3 separate regions of the Homo sapiens genome follow, and all the other regions are linked to region 1. Evidence: fine-mapped expression QTL. A gene starts in region 1. Each other region holds a variant in brackets. All regions are shown on one strand. Distances are between the middles of the regions. Region 1 holds the start of DPEP3 (dipeptidase 3). Region 2 has its middle 7.1 kb from the start of DPEP2. Region 3 overlaps NFATC3 (nuclear factor of activated T cells 3).

Region 1 (8,269 bases):
CTCCACAGAGCTAGCTCATGGCCAGTCATGAGTCCTGAAGCGGGTACAGGCTGGTCACTGGACCTAGAGTGGACCTTGGAGCCACCCCTTTGGGACTTTTCCTGCCCAGGAGCCACCCTGCCTCTGGGTTCCTTGAGAGCCTGGTGCAGGCTGAGCCTGTCCTGCCCAGAGATGTGGGGAATGAGAGAAGTTCAAGGATTGGGAGCAAAACCAGGAGGCATCAAACACATCAGCACTGACTCTGTGGCTCCAGATCTGGGTGGCACTGAAGAGCTGTGTCTGCTGCCTCTGGGTCGTTGGGAGGTCTGCCCATTGCCCAACAGGTGCACTAGACTGCTAGAGTCGTCCTGAGGGCCCTGGCAGCCACAGCCCAAGCCAGCACTGCACAAAGCTGAGGTGGGACTTACCTGCCACAGTGGACACGTTAGCAAGCAGGTTGCACTGCAGCACCCCCATGGACAGTGTCACCATCACGATGCCACCGTTCTTCTTCTAGAGGGATAAAGGGATACTCATCTCAGCCCTTCTGGCCTGAGAACATGCCTCCTGTGCTGTGGGGGCCCTGGTAGGACTGTGCTCCATCCTGGCTTCAGGGGTTGGAAGAGGCTTCACCTCTCTGCGTTTGTGGGTCCCTGAGTGGAAATTACTTGGCCTTAAGTTTCAGGGATGGAGGAGGATTAACCAGCCTTTGGTCCAAGGGTGTGTGAAACCTGGGCTGGTGGCTTTGTGCTCAGGGTCAAGAACCTTTGGATAACACATGCCTAGTTTGAGAGCTGGGATGGCCACTCACCAGAAGCTGCAGGATATCATCGGGAACATTCAACAAATTGTCACACACAGCTCTGGCAGCTGAGTGGGAGAAGATCACAGGAGCCTGAGACACTTCCAGGACCCTTCTTATCAAGGTGTCCGATGCATAGGACAAATCTATCATCATGCCCAGGCGGTTCAACTCCTCTACTACTTTCTGCAGAAACAATTAGGTTTTTTTGTGGGGGAGGGTGTTGGGGTGCAAAGGTGTACACACATATCCGTAGGCAGCAGGTGGGTTGGGGTACAAAACAGGAGTCCTCACCTCACCAAAGCTTGTCAATCCGCTGACGTTGGTGTACATGTGGTGTCTGAACTTGGTGGAACTCTCTGCCCTGCAGGACAGCCATGGAAGGGCAATTTAGCTGATCACACCTTGGGCCATCACAGCCTGGGGGCCCTGGCTCTATCCATCCATCCTGCTTCCAGAACAGGTGCAGAACCAGCTGCTTTCTGGGATTGTGAGGGACCCACTGGGTGTCCAGCCTCCCTCTGCGGACCCCTTCATCCTCAACGGCTTGGTCACACCCATGCCAGGAATGGGGCAGTTTCCACACCATGCCATCTAGCATCCTGGCCAGGTGTTATGCTCACCATGGTGTACTGCAGGTGAAGGTAAGTGTCAGGTAGCGCACCCCCAGCACATAGAAACTGCGCAGCACAGAGAGGCTGCTGTCCAGTGAGTGACCACCCTCCACGCCAATGAGGCAGGCCAGCTTTTGAGAGCTGTTCAGACCTAGAAGGAGGTAGAGAGTCAAGTGGTTAGATCCCAGGAACAGAACCTCCAGAGTGACATCCTGACTACCTCTCATCTGCTGGCCCACCTTCAGCTGAGGTCACAAGCTCGAGTTCAGAGTAGGAGGCACACATGCGGTGAATGAGGTCAATCTGCTCCAGGGCGAGGCGCACGGCAGTCTGGTCCTGGGACTGGCATGAGACGGAGGCTGACCAGAACTGAGGGTAGGTCAAGGGGTCCAGAATGAGGCCAGGGCGGTCTTCAACCCCCTAGGCCTGCCACTCCTGCCTCAGACCCCATAACACCCATTTGGGTCAGTGGCCCCAAGTGAGGCACTACATGACTCCATGGTACCTTGATGACTTTTTTTAAAATTATTTTTTATTTTTATTTTAAAATTTGAGACAGGGTCTTGCTCTGTCACCCAGGCTAGAGTGCAGTGGTGTGATCATGGCTCACTGCAGCCTTGACCCCCCAGGCTCAAACAATCCTCCTGCCTCAGCCTCCCAAAGTGTTGGCATTACAGATGTGAACTACCGAGCCTGGTTCCTTGATGACTGTTTGCTGCCAGCAGTCAAATGATGGACTCACGACACATCATAAATTACTGTTACGGCCAGGCCAAGTGGCTCATGCCTGTAATCTCCACACTGTGGGAGGCCGAGGAGGGTGGATCATGTGAGGTCAGGAGTTCGAGACCAGCCTGGCCAACATGGTAAAACCCTGTCTCTACTAAAACTACAAAAATTAGCAGGGCGTGGTGGCGAGTGCCTGTAATCCCAGCTACTCAGGAGGCTGAGGCAGGGAGAATTGCTTGAACCCGGGAGGCGGAGGTTGCAGTGAACCGAGATCGTGCCACTGTACTCCAGCCTGGGCGACAGAAGGAGACACTGTCTCAAAAATGCAAACAAACAAACAAGCAAAAAACTGCTGTTAGTCCATGTGCTATGTGAATGCCCCAAGGCCAATCCACTATGTCCTTTGTGGTTACGGCAGACCCCACACTCACCAGGGATTTTCTGGTCATTTTCTGCGTGTTTCCACAGAACCTGGGCATACATGCAGCTAGCCTGTCTTGGCCTCCAAGGCCCCACTCTCCTTAGAAACCACATGATGGCACACTGCATGCCCCATTGTATTTAGTCACCCAGAGGCTGGCTGACCCAGGTTTCTGTGACCCCAACATCCCCCAGCAGCCATGCTGTGGCACCCTGTGTGTCCCTGTGGTACCTGGGCACCCACGAGGCCGTCTCTAAGCCTGTCCAGGCTGGTCTGACCATGGCTGAAATTTCGCAGGTTAACATCCTGAAGCACATTCTTGTAACGCTGTCTCAGGACCTGGGGCAGGTCATTGTGGCTGGGGGTGTGAAGGTCAGATGGAAACACCGCCTCCAGATCAGTCAGGATATATCAGGTGCTTGGGTCTACCCTCCTCCACCCCACCAGGCACCTCCTCACACAGACCATATAGAGACCTCCTGAGGTTGGGTTGGAGGGAGGGGGTTAGATTCCACCAGGAATGGAGTAATGCGGGGAAGGGCACCCATGGGTGATGGAGGAGAGAGGGCATCCAGGGGTGGTGTGAGGGAGCCTCCTTGATAGCCTCCTTGATAGCATGCTCAGAACCTCCTCTCCTGCCCAAGGGTGTGCTCACCCCGCGTTGCCCAAACGCTGCACCTACATACCCGTCCACGAGTGGGAAACTCCGCATCAGGGCCTGCGCGCGACCCCGAAGGTCCAGGGTTTTGGGGGTGCCTGGCGTAGTGAGGCCTGGGGTAGTGAGGGCGCTGGGGACACCCGGCGTGGTGAAGAGGCTGGGGGAGCCCAGCGTGGAGAGGGCTCTGGGGGCGCCCGGCGTGGTCTCCGCGCGGGTTACGGGCTGCCGCAGCAGCAGCAGCAGTAGCAGGAGCAGCAGACGCCGCAGATACCGCCGGCTGAGCGCGCGGGAACCCTCGCGGCCCGTGGGCTGCATGTTGCGCGGGGGTCGGCCGCGGGAGCCTGGGAGGAGCAGGCGATGGGCAGAGGCCGACAATGGGGTCCGGATCATGACGACCCAGCCTCCCGAAGAGGGGGTTGAAGTCACGCGACTCTGAGACCGACGCGCCACGCAAGGGGGCGCCACGGCTTTTCCGCCCCCAAGCAGGAGAGCGCCCCCATGGGCCGGAACCGCCGCTGCAGCGTCGAGGACTCCTCGCCCTTCCACCCCCAGCGCTGGCTCCGTAGACCCCCACACGAGTGGGGGAGGAGGCCAGGCAGGGAACTAGTAGGGGCCCAGGGATCTTCCTGATCTCACCTCCTACCCAGGCCCACGTGGCGGTTAGCTGCCGGCTTGTGCCCAGCTCCTAGGCAGGTCAAATATTCTAAGCTGCGACTCAGAAGAGTTAATTCGGTCTGTCTGGTTTGATGGACAGAAAGATTCCCTATAGGTATTTCATTTCATTTCATTTCATTTCATTTCATTTCATTATTTCATTTCATCTCATTTCAGTTTTGAGACGGAGTTTGGGTCTTGTTGCCCAGGCTGGAGTGCAATGATGCAGTCTCGGCTCACTGCAACCTCCACGTCCCGGGTTCAAGCCATTTTCCTGCCTCAGCCTCCCGAGTAGCTGGGATTACAGGTGCCCGCCACCATGCCCAGCTAATTTTTGTATTTTCAGTAGAGATGGGGTTTTACCATGTTGGCCAGGCTGGCCTTGAACTCCTGACCTCAAGTGATCCTCCTGCCTCGACCTCCCAAAGTGCTGGGATTACAGGCGTGAGCCACCGTGCCCGGCCCCGAAAATGAAATTTAAGAACAATTTTTGTTGGGGATCATTATTTTAGCTTTTTTTCCTTCTCCAAGAGACAGAGTATCTGTCACCCAGGCTGGAGTTGCAGTGGGGTGATCATAGCTTGCTGCAGCCTTGATCATAGCTTGCTGCAGCCTTGAACTTCTGAGCTCAAGCGATCCTCCTTCCTCCACCTCCCAAGTAGCTGAGACTATAGGTGCAGTGCCACCATGCATGGCTAATTGTTATTTTTTATTTTATTAAAACAAATTTTTTTTTGAGACAGGGTCTCACTGGAGTGCAGTGGCACCATCTCAGCTCACTGTAGCCTCGACCTCCCAGGTAAAAGTGATCCTCCTGCTTCAGCTCCCTAAGTAGCTGGGAGGGACTACAGGCATGCACCACCATGCCCAGCTAATTTTTGTATATTTGCATTTTTTTTTAGAGACAGGGTTTTACCATGTTGCCCAGACTGGTCTTGAACTCCTGAGCTCAAGCGATCTGCCCACCTAGGTCTCCCAAAGTGCTAGGATTACAGGCATGAGCCACCACGTCCGGCCTTATTTCTTTTTTAGAGACGTGGTTTTTTTTTTGAGACGGAGTCTCACTGTGCCACCCAGGCTGGAGTGCAGTGGCTCCATCTCTGCTCACTGCAAGCTCCGCCTCCCGGGTTCATGCCAGTCTCCTGCCTCAGCCTCCCGAGTAGCTGGGACTACAGGCGCCCACCACCATGCCCAGCTAATTTTTTGTATTTTTAGTAGAGACCGGGTTTCACCGTGTTAGCCAGGATGGTCTTGATCTCCTGACCTCGTGATCCGCCCACCTTGGCCTCCCAAAGTTCCGGGATTACAGGCGTGAGCCACCGCACCGGGCCGAATATTTTTTTCTATATATATGTTAGTATACAGACACAAAAATGAGAGGTGACAGCGTGCTGGCAGCCCTCACAGCCCTCGCTCCCTCTCGGCACCTCCTCGGCCTTGGCGCCCACTCTGGCCGCGTTTGAGGAGCCCTTCAGCCCGTCGCTGCACTGTGGGAGCCCCTTTCTGGGCTGGACAAGGCTGGAGCCGGCTCCCTCAGCTTGCGGGTAGGTGTGGAGAGAGAGGCGTGGGCGGGAACCGTGGCTGCAGGCTGCGCTTGCGGGCCAGCTCGAGTTCCGGGTGGGCGTGGGCTTGGCAAGCCCCGCACTCGGAGCGGCCAGCCGGCCCGGGCAGTGAGGAGCTTAGCACCTGGGCCAGCAGCTGCTGTGCTCGACTTCTCGCTGGGCCTTAGCTGCCTCCCCGCCGGGCAGGGCTCGGGACCTGCAGCCCTCCATGCCTGAGCCTCCACCCCCGCCGTGCGCTCCTGTGCAGCCCAAGCCTCCCCGACGAGCGCCAACCCCTGTTCCACGGCGCCCAGTCCCATCGACTGCCCAAGGGCTGAGGAGTGCGGGCACACGGCGCCGGACTGGCAGGCAGCTCCACCTGCGGCCCCGGTGCAGCATCCACTGGGTGAAGCCAGCTGGGCTCCTGAGTCTGGTGGGGACTTGGAGAATCTTTATGTCTAGCTAAGGGATTGTAAATACACCAATCAGCACTCTGTATGTAGCTCAAGGTTTGTAAACACACCAATCAGCACCCTGTGTCTAGCTCCGGGGTTGTGAATGCACCAATCGACACTCTGTATCTAGCTAATCTAGTGGGGACGTGGAGAACTTTTGTGTCTAGCTCAGGGATTGTAAACGCACCAGTCAGCACCCTGTCAAAACGGGCCCATCAGCTCTCTGTAAAACAGACCAATCAGCTCTCTGTAAAATGGACCAATCAGCAGGATGTGGGTGGGGCCAGATAAGACAATAAAAGCAGGCTGCCCGCTCTTTCAGTAGCAACTTGCTGGGGTTCTCTTCCAGGCAGTGGGAGGTTTGTTCTTTTGCTGTTTGCAATGGCTGTTGCTGCTATTCCGTTTTTGGATCCATACTGTATGAGCTGTAATACTCACTGCGAAGGTCTGCAGCTTCACTCCCGAAGCCAGCGAGGCCATGAACCCACGGAGAGGAACGAAGAACTCCGGACTCGGCGCCTTGAGACCTGTGACACCACGAAGGTCTTCAGCTTCACTTCTGAGCCTGCGAGACCGCGAACCCACCAGAAGGAAGAAACTCCGAACACATCCAACCATCAGAAGGAACAAATTCCGGACACGCCACCTTTAAGAACTGTAACACTCACCGCGAGGGTCTGTGGCTTCATTCTTGAAGTCAGTGAGACCAAGAACCCACCAATTCCGGACACAAAAAGACCCCAGAAGAGTCTACACATCAAATGTTAGTTAGCAGTTATCCTCTCGGGAAGAGATCTACCTGCACCCTGATCAGTTTGCATCTCATTTCTTTATTATGGTGATACTGGCTAAGGGAAATCATGGGTAGTGCTGGTGAGGGCTAATCAGGGTCATGGGGGTTGGGGGAGGCACCACAGCAGTAGCTGAACCTTGCTTCAAAGGTCTGGATCGGGCATGGAGGAGTGGAGAGGGGATCCAGGGTTGGCTAACAGCCCAGCAGAGGTCTAGTTTGGGCATTACAACAACTGTTGTGGAGGAGGCACAGGTGGATTCTCTAAGGCATGGAGTTGAGGGACAAGATCAGACTAGGTCTCTTGGTCCTGAGAGCATGAGGGGGCTTGGTCTGACACGTTATTTCACCTGGGGCAGAAATCCTCCTTAAAGACAATACAAGGCTAGCTTCCAGCAGCTCCTCGTCATTTCCTGTTGAAAAAATCCTGGTGCAGGGGAAATAGATCTCAAAACTGCATCTGGGGCCGGATGCGGTGGCTTACCCCTATAATCCTAACACTTTGGGAGGCTGAGGCGGGCAGGTTGCTTGAGTCTAGGAGTTTGAGACAAGCTTGGCCAACACAGTGAAACCCCATCTCTACTAAAAATACAAAAATTAGCTGGGCAGGGTGGTGTGTGCCTGTAATCCCAGCTACTGAAGAGGCTGAGGCAGGAGAATCACTTGAACCTCGGAGGCGGAGGTTGCAGTGAGCCGAGTGCATTGCACTCCAGCCTGGGCAACAGAGCAAGACTCCGTCTCAAAACAAACAAAAACTGCATCTGGGTCAGCGCAGTGGCTCATGTCTGTAATCCCAGCACTTTGGGAAGCCAAGGCAAGCAGATTGCTTGAGTCCAGGAGTTTGAGACCAGCCTAGGCAACATGGTGAAATCCTGTCTTTACTAAAAATACAAAGTATTAGCCAGGCGTGGTGGTGCGCACCGGAGGTCCCAGCTACTCCAGAGGCTGAGGTAGGAGAATCACTTGAGGCCAGGAAGTTGAGGCTGCAGTGAGCTGAGATCGTGTCACTGCACTCCAGCCTGGGCAATGGGAGTGAGACCCTGTCAAAAAAAAAAAAAAAACAACGCTGGGGATGGTGGCTCACGCCTGTATTCCCAGCACTTTGGGAGGCCAAGTTGGGTGGATCGCCCGAGGTCAGGAGTTCGAGAGCAGCCTGGCCAACATAGTGAAACCCCGTCTGTACTAAAAATACAAAAAAAATTAGCTGGTCCTGGTGGCAGGTGCCTGTAATCCCAGCTACTCGGGAGGCTGAGGCAGGAGAATCACTTGAACCTGGGAGGCAGAGGTTCTAGTGAGCTGAGATCGCGCCACTGCACTCCAGCCTGGGCAACAAGAGGAAATTCCGTCTCAAAACAAAACAAAAAAAACCCTGAATCTGGGTAGCATCTGAACTTCCTGGGCCAGTTGCTGCTGAGAAAGGCCAATGACACAGACCGAATCTAAATTATCTTCCCTCTGCGTCTGTGTCTGTCTCTTGTTTTTCCACCTGGGCTCCCTGATAAGTGGGCATCCCCTTCTGGGCACCTCAAGAAGGGCCTTGGCCTCTGGCGACCACTTCCCCTTGTTGGTTGCTGTCTGCTCCTCCTCATGCCTGGGGGTTAATGGCCAAGTGTGACCCAGCTGCTT
Region 2 (8,269 bases), 26 kb after region 1:
CCATGCCCCAGGCAGTTGTGGGGGACAGCCTGTATTCCATGGCGGCAACAAAGTTTTCATCTACGGACAGGGCCTCATCATCACCTGCGGCCTTAGCCTGTTCTTCAAAAAGCTGCCACTGCTGCATAGGATCATTTAGATCAGTGTAGGCATTGCTTATCGCTTTCTTTATGACAAATAGCTTAAAGCGCTGGGTCAGACCTTTTGAGTAGTGCCATTTAGCCAAAGGGCTCATTATCTGGGGGTGATCACAGATGAATGTAGAATTGTTGCAAATCACTTCCAGGAACTCCCCCAACAAGCTTGTCAAGGAGCCTGGCTGTGGTCCTAGGTGGAGGGCACGCAATAGCATTTGCACGCAGATATTATCAAGAATTTTGCCAATTGCTTCAGTTTCAAATAGGTTATTTTCTGGCAGCTTCACCCCCAGGGCTTTCTCAAGCTCTTCTATCATGCTGATTCTCCGGAAGGGTAGGGTGAAGTCAATATTGCAGGCTTATCCCTCTGGGACATCTGGGTAGTAGGTGACCTTGTAACTACCTGTATTATGCTTCACCATCCCTGGAACCATCTTCCCCGTGATTTCCGTGAGATTGTGATAGTCTAGGCCATGTAGAACTCAGGGGTGCTGAACTCAGGATTTTACGTCAAATCAATTCCTTCATTCCAGAACTGGAATGCAATTTCATAAACCTGGTCAATGCCACCAACCACTAGCATCTTATGGTAGAGTTCTAGAGTAGTTCATGTGCAGCTTGTTGTGATAAGTGATGAAAGGCTTGGTCATAGCTCCCCTGGGATGACGTTCATTCATGGGAGTTTCAAGCTCTAGGAATCCCAGCTCATCCAAGAAACTTTTTTTTTTTTTTTGAGATGGAGTTTTCTTGTTGCTCAGGCTGGAGTATAGTGGTGCAATCTTGGCTTACTGCAACCTCCACCTCCTGGGTTCAAGTAATTCTGCTTCAGCCTCCTGAGTAGCTAGGATTATAGGCACCTGCCACCACGCCCATCTAATTTTTGTATTTTTAGTAGAGGTGGGGTTTTACCATGTCGTCCAGACTGGTCTCGAACTCCTGACCTCAGGCAATCTGCCTGCCTTGGCCTCCCAAAGTGCTGGGATTACAGGCGTGAGCCACTGCACCTGGCCTAAGAAACTTATTATACATGTGATGATCTTACAGCAGATGATAAATTTCTGCCTCATTCATTCAGGATCAAGTCCAAGTATCTCTGACCATACCTTATTTCCTTGTCTTTGAGGCCAAAGTGAAGATGAGGTAACATATACAAGCAAGGCCACAGCAGTGTGATCTCATAGGGAATGAAGCTCAGCTCATCCTTCTTGGTTTTTCCCAGGATTCCTCTGAATTCCAATTATGTTTCCCCAACGCAGTTTGTTATTAATATGAATAAATTATTCTTCCTGAAATTATAATTCCTGAAATTGGCCATGACTTGCAACTTGACCCCCTCTGCTCAAAGATCATAGAAGTTCATGGCTGGGCACTGTGTCTCACGCCTATAATCCCAGCACTTTGGGAGGCCAAGGCAGGCAGGCAGATCACCTGAGGTTGGGAGTTCGAGATCAGCCTGACCAACATGGAGAAACCTCACCTCTACTAAAAATACAAAATTAGCCGGGCGTGGTGGCGCACGCCTGTAATCCCAGCTACTAGGGAGGCTGAGGCAGGAGAATTGCTTAAACCTAGGGAGGAGGAGGTTGCAGTGAGCTGAGATTGTGCCATTGCATTCCAGCCTGGGCAACAATAGTGAAATTCCATCTCAAAAAAAAAAAAAAAAAGATCATAGAAGTTCAGCTTTCCTCCAAAAGCTTTTTTGGCATGGATCCTATCTGTCACGTTTAAGGTGATATCAGTCAGGAGATCCCCAGTTTGCAGGTGACAATATTCTGGGATGAAGTCAGTGAGGGAGATGTCTACATGGATCTCGTTGGGGTATGGGTCTTTCCCATTGACCTACCTGACTGCAAATCTTTTTTTTTTTTTTTTTTTTTGAGACAGAGTCTCGCTCTGTTGCCCAGGCTGGAGTGCAGTGGCTCAATCTCAGCTCACTGCAACCTCCACCTCCCAGATTCAAGCGATTCTCCTACCTCAGCCTCCCAAGTAGCTGGAATTACAGGCATGTGCCACCATGCCCAGCTAATTTTTGTATTTTTAGTAGAGATGGGGTTTCATCATGTTGGCCAGGCTGGCCTCGAACCCCTGACTTCAAGTGATCTGCCTGCCTCAGCCTCCCAAAGTGCTAGGATTACAGGAGTGAACCACCGGGCCTGGCCTTGGCTGTGGATCTTGTAGTACTGATTTGGGTCCAGGCTCTCCTCCTCAGGACCCACACCATTGTCAGTGGTATGGTTGGTGGCAGCAGCAGTGACCTGGGCTTAGCTGTTTCTCACTGAGCTCTTACTGCTTGGCTGCCTTCTCTGCCACTTTCTTCTCGGCTTTCAGGTATCTCTTCGGCTTGTTCTTGCTCAGTTTTGACTCACCACCATCCACTTTAACCTTGGCCCCTTGTACTGCAGTCATCTTCCCAGAGGGCCTGGACCCAAAATTGTGTTTTTTTTCTTTTTCTTTTTTTTTTGAGATGAAGTCTTGCTCTGTTGCTCAGGCTGGAGTGCAGTGGCGCAATCTCGGCTCGCTGCAACTTCTGCCTCCAGGGTTCAAGGGATTCTCATACCTCATCCTCCAGAGTAACCAGGAATACAGGCACCCACCACCACTCCCAGCTAAATATTCACATTTTTAGTAGCGATGGGGTTTTGTCATGTTGTCCAGGCTGGTCTCGAACTCCGGGCCTCAAGTGATCCTCCCACATCAGCCTCCCAAAGTACTGGAATATAGGCATGAGCCGCTGTGCCTGGCCCTGTTTTTTGTTTTTTTCACGTGGCCGTGTAGTTAAGGAACCAGCCTTATCGTGTGGGTAAGAAAATTGAGCAGCTGGTCAGATGAGGGGTTCCTTCAATCCCTCCACTTCCAGCTGCTGCCTCTAGGAAAGGCCTCAAATTCCTTACCTCAGCTTCCTGGGATTACAGGCGCACGCCACCATGCCTGGCTAATTTTTTTATTTTTAGTAGAGACAGGGGTTTCTCCATGTTGGCCAGGCTGGTCTCAAACTCATGACCTCAAGGGATCTGCCCACCTCAGTCTCCCAGAGTGCTAGGATTACAGGCGTGAGCCACTGTGCCCAGCCTCAAATTCCTTACATCTATCAGTTTGTCCGGGCATCATTTCCTGATCACCCACTGGTGCTGGCCATTTGCTGGGGTGTGCAGTGAGGTGGCTGGATAAGTCTCCAGCTATCACATGTGCTGGCATAAGCACATGGGGGTGGAGGGTGGGCTCTGTAGAGGCCCCCAAGATCCAGGAGCCAGTGCTGACCAAACATCTAGACAACATGTGTGATTTCACATTTAACCTCAAATTCAGACTTGCTGTCTCTTGCTTAACCTTGTC[T/A]GCTGATCTCCGAGGGCTATCAGACCTGTTTCTGCAAAAACACAGTGAAGTCACAGCACACCCTGCCCCGGAGCTCTCTAAGCTTCCTGTTTTTATGCAGAAAGCCTGCCCTCCTGTGAAGCTGACCATGTGAGATCTCACTGACTCCGCATCTGGGTGAATCTGAGAAGCTTAGTTAAAAACAACAACACAAAACTTTTTTTTTGAAACTGTATCTCCCTCTGTGGCCTAGGCTGGAGTGCAGTGGTGCCGTCATGGCTCACTGTAGCCTCAAATTCGGGGCTCAGGTGATCCTCTCACCTCAGCTTCCCGAGTAGCAGGGACTACAGGGTGGTGCCACCACACCCAGCTAATTTTTTTTTTTTTTTTGGTAGAGATGGGATTTCACCATGTTGCCAGGCTGGTCTCAAACCCCTGGTCTCAAGTGATCCTCCCACCTTAGCCTCCCACAGTGTTGGGATTACAGGCATGAGCCACTGTGCCCAGACCAAAAAACTTTTTATAGGAAAAATTGCAAATACATGAGAAAGGAGAGAGAAAAGTGTATTAACTCCCATGTAGCCATCACCCAGTTTCAAAGATTACCAACTGATGGCTCATCTTATTTCATTTATGCTCTCACTCACCTCTTTCTACAGATTATTTTAAAGCAAATCATAGACATCTATTTCATCCATTTTTAAGTATGCCTCTCTAAAAGGTAAGGGCTCTTTTTAGGCTGGGCACGTGGCTCTTGCCTGAAATCACAGCACTTTGGAAGCTTGAGGTGGGTGGATCACCTGAGGTCAGGAGTTGGAGACCAGCCTGGCTAACATAGCGAACCCCATCTCTGCTAAAAATACAAAAATTAGCTGGTTGTCGTGGAGGACACCTATAATCCCAGCTACTCAGGAGTCTGAGACAGGAGAACTGCTTGAACCCAGGAGGCAGAGATTGCAGTGAGCTGAGATCATGCCACTGTACTCCAGCCTGGGCAGCAGAGAAAGACTCAGTCTCTAAATAAATAAATAAATAAATGGTAATGGCTGTTTTTAAAAGACAACTATAAGCCAGGTGCACTGGGCCATTCCTGTAGTCCTACTAGCTATTTGGGAGGCTGAAACAGGAGGATTGCTTGAGCCCAGGAGTTTGAGGCCAGCCTGGGCAGCATACTAAAACCCTGTTTCTGAAAAATAAAATAAAATAAATAAATATATAAATAAATGGCAATTACCATACCATTATGACCCTTATAAAAGTTAACAGTACTTTTCTTTTAAAATTTGTAGAGACAGGGTCTTTTTTTTTTGAGACAGAGTCTCCCTCTGTTGCCCAGGCTGGAGCGCAGTGGGGTGATGTCGGCTCACTGCAAACTCCGCCTCCTGCGTTCACGCCATTCTCCTGCCTCGCCTTCCGAGTAGCTGGGACTACAGGCACCCGCCACCATGCCCAGCTAATTTTTTTGTATTTTCAGTAGAGACGGGGTTTCACCATGTTAGCCAGGATGGTCTCGATCTCCTAACCTCGTGATCCACCCGCCTCGGCCTCCCAAAGTGCTGGGATTACAGGCATGAGCCACCGCGCCTGGCCGAGACAGGGTCCTGTTTTATTCCCCAGGCTGGTGACGAACTCCTGGGCTCAAGCAGTCCTCCCTCTTTGGCCTCCCAAAGTGCTGTGATTACAGGCATGAGCCACCACACCCAGCCACTTTTTTTTTTTTTTTTGAGATGGAGTCTCGCTCTGTCGCCCAGGTTGGAGTGCAGTGGCGCCATCTCGGCTCACTGCAAGCTCCGCCTCTCGGGTTTATGCCATTCTCCTGCCTCAGCCTCCCGAGTAGCTGGGACTACAGGTGTCTGCCACCACGCCTGGCTAATTTTTTGTATTTTTAGTAGAGATGGGGTTTCACCATGTTAGCCAGGATGGTCTCAATCTCCTGACCTTGTGATCCACCCGCCTCGGCCTCCCCAAAGTGCTGGGATTACAGGTGTGAGCCACCACGCCCGGCCTTTTTTTTTTTTTTTTTTTGAGACGGAGTTTTGTTTTTGTTGCCCAGGCTGGAGTGCAATGGCGTGGTCTTGGCTCTCTGCAACTTCTACCTCCCAGGTTCAAGGGATTCTTCTGCCTCAGCCTCCCAAGTAGCTGGGATTACAGGCACGCATTAACACACCTGGCTAATTTTTTTGTATTTTTAGTAGTGACGGGGTTTCATTATGTTGGTCAAGCTGGTCTTGAATTCCTGACTTCATGTCATCCGCCCACCTCTGCCTCCCAAAGTGCTGGGATTACAGGCATGAGCCACCGTGCCCAGCCCAATTCTTTAGTATCATAAATTATCTATCATGTTCAAATTTATCTGATTGTCCAATTTTTAAATAATTCATTGGTTTGAACTGTAATGGAGCTCAGACCGCCCACATTGTAAATGGTTGTTATGACTCAATCTTCAGGTTCTTCTTTTTTTTGTCTTCCTTGCAATTTCTTTGTTGAAAAAATCACGTCCTTGTCCGTTAGAGTTTTCCATGTTGTAGAGTTTTCTGATTGCATCTCATGGTGTCATTTAACATGTTCCTGTGTCCTTGTGTTTTCTATAAACTGGTAGTTAAGGCAAGCTTTTATTTATTTAAAATTTTTTTTTCTAATTCTTTACTGTTAATATTTTTTGTAGAGATGGAGTGCTGCTGTGTTGCCCAGGCTGGTCTCGAACTCTTGGGCTCAAGCAATCCTCCCACCTCAGCCTCCCAAAGTGCTGGGATTACAGCCATGAGCCACCATGGCCAGCTGAGGGGAAGCTTTTAATACTGTGGATTTCTAGGCCAGTACCCTAAAACTTTAGACTGGTGTGGGTGCTGGGGATCACTTTTTTTTTTTTAAGACCGAGTCTCGCTCTGTCACCCAGGCTGGAGTGCAATGGCGCGATCTCAGCTCACTGCAAGCTCCGCCTCCCGGGTTCATGCCATTTTCCTGCCTCAGCTTCCCGCGTAGCTGGGACTACAGGCACCCACCACCACACCTGGCTAATTTTTTTTTTTTTTTTGTATTTTTTAGTAGAGACGGAGTTTCACCGTGTTAGCCAGGATGGTCTCGATCTCCTGACCTCGTGATCTCCCCGCCTTGGCCTCCCAAAGTGCTGGGATTACAGGTGTGAGCCACTGCGCCTGGCCGGGATCACTCTTTTTTAAGAGCCCCAGTTGAGTCTATTTGTTTCAGCTTTGGGAACTGCCAAACTATCCAGGCCATCCAGGAACCACAAATCTGCTTCAGTCACGCCACGGATGAGAGACTCTGGGGGTTAATGGAGACTCTCACAGGGAACTTTCTGGGAGCCCAGGGCCTGTGCCTCCTTCCTTTAACCCAAGTTAGGAAAACCTATCAGGACCTTTCCTGGCCTCCATGGTATGCGTGTTGGGGGGAGGAGCAACAGTCTTGCTGCTGGGACCCCTAAGGACAAGTGAGTTGCTGACAGTGCCGCCTTTTTCTGGGCTGCTGATACAGGCAGACTTGGGACAAACGTCATGGTGTTTCTTCTCTGCTGACTGCTCCTCCATCCCCCAGTCCCCAGCACCAGCTGTCCCAGCTGCAGAGAGAGACAGTCCCCCTGGTAACAGCCAGCACCTCACTACCATGGCACGCAGCAGTCAGACGGATCTTTTTAGCATCTATATCAGATTACTTCCCTACCTTATTCAGATTCCTCCATGACTTCCCAATATACTTAAAACAAGATCCACTGTCCTTACCGTGGCTGGCACGGCCCACTATGGTCTGGCCCATGCTTACTTGCTTACTTCCTTACTTCTCCAACCACCTTTTTCTTTTCTTTCTTTTTTTTTTTGAGACAAGTCTCACTCTTGTCCCTCAGGCTTGAGTGCAATGGCTCGATCTCGGCTCACTGCAGCCTTCGCCTCCCGGGTTCAAATGATTCTCCTGCCTCTGCCTCCCAAGTAGCTGGGATTAAGGCGCCTGCCACCACACCCAGCTAATTTTTGTATTTTTTAGTAGAGACAGGGTTTCACCATGTTGGCCAGGCTAGTCTCGAACTCCTGACCTCAGGTGATCCACTAGCCTCAGCCTCCCAAATTGCTGGAATTACAGGAGTGAGCCACTGCACCTGGCCTCCAACCATCTTATTTTTTTTTCCTTCCTTCCTTCCTTCCTTCCTTCCTTCCTTCCTTCCTTCCTTCCTTCCTTCCTTCCTTCCATCTTTCCTTCCTTCCTTCCTTCCTTTCTTTCTTTCTGACAGAGTCTCACTCGTTGCCTAGGCTGGAGTGCAGTGGCAGGATCATGGCTCGTTGCAGCCTATACCTCCTAGGCTCAAGCAATCCTCCTGCCTCAGCCTCCTGAGTAGCTAGGGACCACAGGCATTCACCACCACACCCAGCTGATTTTTTGATTTTTTGTAGAAAGGGCACCTCCCTATGTTGCCAGGCTGGTCTCAAACTCCTGGGCTCAAGTGACCCTCCCTCCTTGGCCTCCCAGCCACCACATCTTTCAATCTCCTCTATCTTTCTTCCCTGGCCACACTGGCCTTTCTGCTGGCCCTCAAATTGGTCAGTCTTGTAGGCCGGGTGTGTTGGCTCACACCTGTAATCCTAGCACCCTGGGAGGCCAACGCTGGCGGATTACCTGAGGTCTGCAGTTTAAGACCAGCCTGGCAAACATAGTGAAACCCCATCTCTACTAAAAACACAAAAATTAGCCGAGTGTAGTGGCATGTGCCTCTAGTCCCAGCTACTCAGGAGGCTGAGGCAGGAGAATCACTTGAACCTGAGAGGCAGAGGTTGCAACGAGCCAAGGTCGCACCATTGTACGCCATCCTGGGA
Region 3 (8,000 bases), 180 kb after region 1:
GAGTCTGTAATCAATCCCAGCTTCTCGGGAGGCTGAGGCAGGAGAATCGCTTGACCCTGGGGGGCAGAGGTTGCAGTGGGCTGAGATCGTGTCACTGCACTCCAGCCTGGGGGACAAGAGCGAGACTTCGTCTCAAAAACAACAACAACAACAAAAACAAAAACAAATGGATAATGATGGGGACAAAGATACAAGAGAAGAAAACTGCAAACCGATATCCTTCATGAATATACATGCAACAATCTTCAACAAAATGCTTAGCAACCAAATCCATCAGCACACTACAAAAGTTTATACACCATGATCAAGTGGGATCTATCCCAGGAAAGCAAGAGTGGTTCAACATATGAAAATTAATCTGTGTAATTTACTACATTAGTAGAATGAAGAGAAAAACCATGTGGTCATCTCAGTTGATAGAGAAAAAAACCTTTGACAAAATTCAGCAGCCTTTCATGATTTAAAAAAAGCAAAACAGCCGGGCACAGTCACTCACACCTGTAATCTCAGCACTTTGGGAGGTCGAGGCGGGCAGATCACCTGAGGTCAGGAGTTCAGATCGCCCTGGCCAGCATGGTGAAACCCCATCTGTACTAAAAATACAAAAATTAGCCGGGCATGTTGGTGGGTGCCTGTAATCCCAGCTACTCGGGAGGCTGAGGCAGGAAAATCGCTTGAACCCAGGAGGCAGAGGTTGCACTGAGCAGAGATCGTACCACTATACTCCAGCCTGGGTGACAGAGCGAGACACTGTCTCAAAAAAAGGCAAAACAAAGCAAACTGAAAATAGAGGGAAACTTAGTGTGATTAAGAGGATTCTTGAAAAACTCACACCTAATATCATACTTAATGGTTAAAGACTGAAAGGTTTCCCTCTAACATCAGGAACAAGACAAGGATGCCTGCTTTCACTACTGCGATTCAGCCTTATGCTAGAAGTCCTAGCCAGAGCAATTAGGCAATATAAAAGAAAAAAAAAAAGGCATAGAAAACAAAGGCACAAACACATTCTCTCTCTCTGTCTCTGTCTCTCTCTCCTTCTCCTTCTCTCCCTCTCTCCCTCTTTCTCTTTCCCGAAGATTGTTGAAATTGTTTGCTTAAATAGGCATTTAACTTGGTTGGAGTCAGCCTGGAAAACTTGTCTCCCTGTGGTTGGTGGCAGCTCAAAATCTCATTTCAGTTTTAGCCTTAGCTAGGCTGCTTGGGGTCTGTAAGTTTATACTTATAAAATTGTAAGTTTATAATATATGGAATAGGGGTTTTCAGACTCTTTCTACTAAAAGTGTCTCCGATTTAACAGTCTGTTAGAGGACCTTCCTATATACCCAAATCTTTAGGTCTGGTCTGAATGGTTAATGTTGCCCAGAGTACAGAATCAGTATTTCTTTTGTGTTTTCTACAGCAGAGTCAGAAAGCTTTGTACAGTTTTGGTCGATCTAGATATTTATCTTAAAAAAACAAAACCAAACCCACATTCCTTTATGTAACGTATTCCAGTGTTTTATTTCTTAAACTAATTTGGAAATTTGGAGGGCTGCTCACTGGTTACTTTTGGTTGTATTTTTTGAAATAACATTTTGTGTGTCAATAGTATATGATAGAGATATAATAGACTTACTATTGTTGGCATATTGTAAAATGCATGGATAATGAATTGTGCTTTTCTGTGTTTCTTTTTCCTGATTAGCTCCTGGGCTATAACGAAAAGCCAATAAATCTACAAATGTTTATTGGGACAGCAGATGATCGATATTTACGACCTCATGCATTTTACCAGGTGCATCGAATCACTGGGAAGACAGTCGCTACTGCAAGCCAAGAGATAATAATTGCCAGTACAAAAGTTCTGGAAATTCCACTTCTTCCTGAAAATAATATGTCAGCCAGGTATTTTGAAATATACCTAAAATGTGCAGTTCTTTTTTTCTCTATACTTTCAGAAAAAAAGTAAATATATTTTTGAATATAAATATAAAATATTGTTCTAAATGGCATTATGTAAATAATGTACATTTAGTACATTTTCTAAGAGTGGTAGCATATTTCCAGAAGGAAAATTCAATTCAGTAAGTGTTTTTATACTATATATTACCAGCCAAGCCATTATCCTAGGTGATAGGGATATAAATACTGTATCTGGACTTTCATCAAATGGCTCACAGTCTATCTAATAGGGTAGACAATAAATAAACAATTATGATACAATTATGATTGTTCTATTTCCTTAAGGAAAACTTTTGACTTTACCTCCAGGCATCCCACTTGACCCATTTCCAAATAAGATGAGGTGGCCAACTTCTGAATGAGAATGCAATAGAGTTTTGTACAAAAGGATTATATATAGTTGCCTGTAATAGAAACCTGATATGCAGTGGCTTGAACAGTTAGGGGTTTAGTGTTTTATCACATAAACGAAATATACAGATAGATATTTTAGGGCTAGCACAGTAGCTGCATAAGTCATTAGGGCCCCAAGCAAGTTTTTTCTTCTTTGCCGTCTTTAGCATGTGGTTTCCATCCTAAAGATTGTCTTATGATCTAAAATGGCTGCTGGAGCTCTAGCCATGACATCCTTATTACCAGAGGGGTAATAAGGAGAAAGGTGTGGAGGAAGGGTAAAAGGGAACTTCCATTGGAGTCAAATCCTCTTTTAAGAACCTTTTCCTAAAACCTACTTAACAACTCTACATCTCATTGATCATGCTTATATGTAAGGAACACATGGTTATGTTTACCAGAACACATTGTCACCTCAAATAATTTAGGGAGGCCGAGCACCATGGCTCATGCCTGTAATCCCAGTATTTTGGGAGGCCAAGGCAGGCGGATCACCTGAGCTCAGGAATTTCAGACCAGCCTGAGCAACATGGCGAAACCTTGTCTCTACTAAAATTACAGAAATTAGCCGAGTGCGGTTGCGCCTGTCTGTAGTCCCAGCTACTTGGGAGACTGAGGTAGGAGGATCACTTGCCCGGGAGGCAGAGGTGGCAGTTAGTCGAGATAGTGCCACTGCCACTACACTCCAGCCTGGGCAAGAGTGAGATCCTATCTTTAAAAACAAAAAACAAACAAAGCAATGTAGGGGCCTGTTACTGAGGAAGAAGAAAAGAAAGGATATTGAGTAGGCAGGCACCTATCAGTGGGTAGTAGGCACAACCAGACATGGGAAACTTAGATTTTTATTACAGAAATTGTTTCAAACTACACTATAGACCTTTCTTTCTTTTTTTTTTTTTTTTATATTTTTATTTATTTTTTTCAAGATGGAGTCTCGCTCTGTGGCCCAGGTTGGAGTGCAGTGGTGCAATCTCGGCTCACGCAAGCTCCGCCTCCTGGGTTGATGCCATTCTCCTGCCCCAGCCTCCTGAGTAGCTGGGACTAGAGGCACCTGCCACCACGCCCGGCTAATTTTTTTGTATTTTTAGTAGAGATGGGGTTTCACCGTGTTAGCCAGGATGGTCTTGATCTCCTGACCTCGTGATCCACCCACCTCGGCCTCCTGAAGTGCTGGGATTACAGGCGTGAGCCACTGAGCCTGGCCCACAGACCTTTCTTAAGGCAGGAATAACATCCATCCCAGGCTATTGCAAGAACAGTCCTATAAAACAGATTTCAGCTGGGCGCAGTGGCTCACACCTATTATCCCAGCACTTTGGGAGGCCGAGGTGGGCGGATTACCTGAGACCAGGAGTTTGAGACCAGCCTGGCCAACATGGTGAAACCCGTCTCTGCTAAAAATACAAAAAATTACCTGGGTGTGGTGGCGGGTGTCTGTAATCCCAGCTACTCAGGAGGCTGAGGCAGGAGAATTGCTTGAACCCCAGAGGTGGAGGCTGCAGTGGGCTGAGATCACTCCATTGCATCAAGAGCGAAACTCCGACTCAAAAAGAAAAAGAAACCCCAAAAAATCAGATTTCAGTCTTGAGCTCTCTTCATTTAAATTTATATTTAAATAAACTTTTTAGATGAGCTGAGTGTACTCCCTGAGGACATAGAAACTGATATGTTTCTATTAGGTAAAATAAGAGTTGCCTCAATACATAACTTATTTTGGGCAGATCACTTGAGGGTCAGGAGTTCGAGACCAGCGTGGCCAATATGGTGAAACCCCCAACTCTACTAAAAAATAGAAAAATTAGCTGGGCATAGTTGTCCTGTCTGTAGTCCCAGCTGCTCAGGAGGCTGAGGCTTGAGAATCGCTTGAATCCAGGAGGCAGAGGTTGTAGTGACCCCAGATTGCGCCATTGCACTCCAGCCTGGGCGACAGAGTGAGACTTAGTCTCAAAACAAAAAACAAAAAACCTTATTCTGTTAATTACTACCAGAAAAGAAAAGTTAATATAAATTTAAATAAAATCTTTAAATAAATATAAATTTAAATAAAATTTTTGCCTGCTTTGGTTCAGATGGACAGTACTCAAGAACCTAACCCAGCAAATCATTGCATAGGGGCTATGACAGAGTTTTTTCACAGCAAAGGCAGACAGCTAGCTGATAATCTCTACTCTTAAATTTTTTTTTTTTAGACTGTCTAAATTTGTTGCCCAGGCTGGAGTGCAGTG[T/G]CACCATCTTAGCTCACTACAACCTCTGCCTCCCAGGCTCAAGTGATTCTCGTGCTTCAGCCACCCAAGTAGCTGAGATTGCACACGTGCACCACCACTCCTGGCTAATTTTTGTATTTTTAGTAGAGACAGGGTTTTGCCATGTTGACCAGGCTGGTCTCGACCTCCTGGCCTCAAGCAGTCCACCCGCTTTAGCCTCCCAAAGTGCTGGGATTACATCTAGATGTGAGCCACTGCAACGGCCTTAAACATTTGTGTTCTATAATGTAGAAAGAACTTTGGAATCTCAGCCTGTATTTATTCAGATACTCGAGCAAAACTTTCTTGAGGAAAAATATTGACACCAGGCATCCTATTGGACACATTTTCAAATAAGGTTAACATGCCCAACCTCTGAATGAGAATACAAGTAGGCTTCTTCCCTTTTGTTCTGGGATCTTACTTTTTTATATAGCATCAGAAGCATGTGATATGTGATTAGTCAGCTGTAGAGGGAAATTTAAAAATCACCTTTGAACTGTCTTTTTCCAAAAACTCAGGAAATTGATCCCTAGACGATAGTTTGCAGGCCATGTTTGCATTCATTCCTCTGGATATTCAAAGCACAATATTCGAATCAAGTTAAATAGAAAAATCACAAGTTTATTCTGTTACTTAACTTGGCTTGAGGGACAGTATGAGAAATAGCCATGAACATACTTCATAATCTGAAAAACCACTATTAAAGACAGTTTCTCTTAGGTTGATCACTATTGCATGCGTGTGTGCATGCACACACAAACACAGTCCTTTCAACTTAAAGGAAAAAAGTTAGTGTTTCCCGATGGCATGGTAGATTTTGCTTTACCGTACAACACGTGGCCTATAACAACTTTATCACATTTACTTTTTGCCTTGGCTTCCAGAACTTCATAGTCAAGCCCGTTTACAGTAATTATAGTAATTTGTACAACTCTAGACTTGGAGTTTACTTCCTAGTGTTTTAAAATTTTTTCTATTTATTTTTTCTTGGCTTTATTTGTATCTATATTGTAAAATGCCTCATATCCTTTCTGAAAATAATATATAAACCAATAAATAGAAAAGAGTATATTAATTTCTATGAAAAATTATCAAGAAATTGGGAAAGGCTCATATCCCAAATAATATGAAAGCATTGGAGCAGTAGGATCTAAATTTACCTGTCTCCTCCATCATCTTCCATTTACTAGCACATGGAACAAGGGTAATAGTCATAATTTATGTCCCTTCCTCAACCAGATCTAGCATGTACTGTGTATTTTAGACCAGAAAGGACCAGGCTGCAGAAATACCACTATGACTAGTAACATACAGGTAGTCCTCCTCCTGCAACCCTACCACACACATACCTAAAACTTCTTGACCATTCTATCTGCTCTGTACTGGTAGATTGTGGAACAGGAGTTCTGTAGGACCCAAGCGTTATGTATATTGGAGAAAGGATTAAATAAGGGGCAACTAGGATGTTACTAAACCTAAGAAACTTTTTTTAGGTACTGTAGATACCAGGGTAGCTAATGATGAATGAGCCTGTTTACTCAGTAGCTAATTGCTAGGATAAACTAGTATCCTAGTAGCTTGTTGAATGTAACTATATTATTCAGTACAGTGGTTGAATATAATATAGTTCCAGATAATGGTAGGTTTAAAATTCCCAGGTGATAGATAAGACCATGGTTCAAAATAATTTATGCATAAGTGAACCTTAAGTATGTATTAAGTGTCTTTACTGTTCTCTTAAGGCAATAAGGTGTGGAAAAATTCATAGATACTCCCTTGGTTTTGCCTACTAAGCCATGGGCTTGGTTATTTCAAGCCTAAACTCTTTTTTTTTTTTTTTTAAACATCTCAATTGGCTTTATTGGTGATTCTGGAATTGGGCAACACTTCATTCCATAAAATACATAAGTGTTCCGACAAGGTTGACTTTATAGACAGAGAAGGGCTGAAGAAAGACAAGCAAAGATCAAAGAACATGTTGATCATTTTTTTTTTTTTAATTGATCATTCTTGGGTGTTTCTCGCAGAGGGGGATTTGGCAGGGTCATAGGACAATAGTGGAGGGAAGGTCAGCAGATAAACAAGTGAACAAAGGTCTCTGGTTTTCCTAGGCAGAGGACCCTGCCGCCTTCCGCAGTGTTTGTGTCCCTGGGTACTTGCGATTAGGGAGTGGTGATGACTCTTAACAACGAGCACGCTGCCTTCAAGCATCTGTTTAACAAAGCACATCTTGCACCGCCCTTAATCCATTTAACCCTGAGTGGACACAGCACATGTTTCAGAGAGCACAGGGTTGGGGGTAAGGTCACAGATCAACAGAATGAGAATTTTTCTTAGTACAGAACAAAATGAAAAGTCTCCCATGTCTACCTCTTTCTACACAGACATGGCAACCATCCGATTTCTCAATCTTTTCCCCACCTTTCCCCCCTTTCTATTCCACAAAACCGCCATTGTCATCATGGCCCGTTCTCAATGAGCTGTTGGGTACACCTCCCAGACGGGGTGGTGGCCGGGCAGAGGGGCTCCTCACTTCCCAGTAGGGGCGGCCGGGCAGAGGCGCCCCTCACCTCCCGGGCGGGGCGGCTGGCTGGGCTGGGGGCTGACCCCACCACCTCCCTCCCGGACGGGGCGGCTGGCCGGGCAGAGGGGCTTCTCACTTCCCAGTAGGGGCGGCCGGGCAGAGGCGCCCCTCACCTCCCGGGCGGGGCTGCTGGCTGGGCGGGGGGCTGACCCCCCCACTTCCCTCCCGGACGGGGCGGCTGGCCTGGTGGGGGCTGACCCCCACCTCCCTCCTGGACGGGGTGGCTGCCGGGCGGAGACGCTCCTCACTTCCCAGACGGGGCGGCTGCCGGGCGGATGGGCTCCTCACTTCTCAGACGGGGCAGCTGCCGGGCGGAGGGTCTCCTCACTTCTCTGACGGGGCGGCCGGGCAGAGACGCTCCTCACCTCCCAGACGGGGTCGCGGCTGGGCAGAGGCGCTCCTCACATCCCAGACGGGGCGGTGGGGCAGAGGCGCTCCCCACATCTCAGACGATGGGCGGCCGGGCAGAGACGCTCCTCACTTCCTAGATGGGATGGCGGCCGGGAAGAGGCGCTCCTCACTTCCTAGATGGGATGGCGGCCGGGCAGAGACGCTCCTCACTTTCCAGACTGGGCAGCCAGGCAGAGGGGCTCTTCACGTCCCAGACGATGGGCGGCCAGGCAGAGACGCTCCTCACTTCCCAGACGGGGTGGCGGCCGGGCAGAGGCTGCAATCTCGGCACTTTGGGAGGCCAAGGCAGGCGGCTGGGAGGTGGAGGTTGTAGCGAGCCGAGATCACGCCACTGCACTCCAGCCTAGGCACCATTGAGCACTGAGTGAACCAGACTCCGTCTGCAATCCCAGCACCTCGGGAGGCCGAGGCTGGCGGATCAC

What was found.
Region 2: its variant is fine-mapped to the expression of DPEP3 in whole blood (GTEx, PIP above 0.99).
Region 3: its variant is fine-mapped to the expression of DPEP3 in whole blood (TOPMed, PIP above 0.99).

The regions. Positions count from the first base shown.
Region 1 is chr16:67,976,863-67,985,131 of GRCh38, forward strand. DPEP3 (dipeptidase 3) reads right to left here and starts at 3,637. Exons shown (of 10, transcript NM_001370198.1): 1 at 3,232-3,637; 2 at 2,777-2,903; 3 at 1,635-1,764; 4 at 1,405-1,546; 5 at 1,076-1,145; 6 at 791-967; 7 at 408-492. The coding sequence starts at 3,518. RefSeq lists an enhancer at 2,961-3,461 and silencers at 7,842-7,941, 8,064-8,269.
Region 2 is chr16:68,002,467-68,010,735 of GRCh38, forward strand. It overlaps the pseudogene KARS1P3. Among named protein-coding and RNA genes, the nearest start is that of DPEP2, 7.1 kb to the left of the region's middle. RefSeq lists an enhancer at 4,120-4,893. The variant T/A (reference allele first, on the strand shown) is at 3,471.
Region 3 is chr16:68,156,182-68,164,181 of GRCh38, forward strand. NFATC3 (nuclear factor of activated T cells 3) reads left to right here. Exons shown (of 10, transcript NM_173165.3): 4 at 1,688-1,887. Among named protein-coding and RNA genes, the nearest start is that of MIR6773, 73 kb to the right of the region's middle. RefSeq lists an enhancer at 7,383-8,000. The variant T/G (reference allele first, on the strand shown) is at 4,563.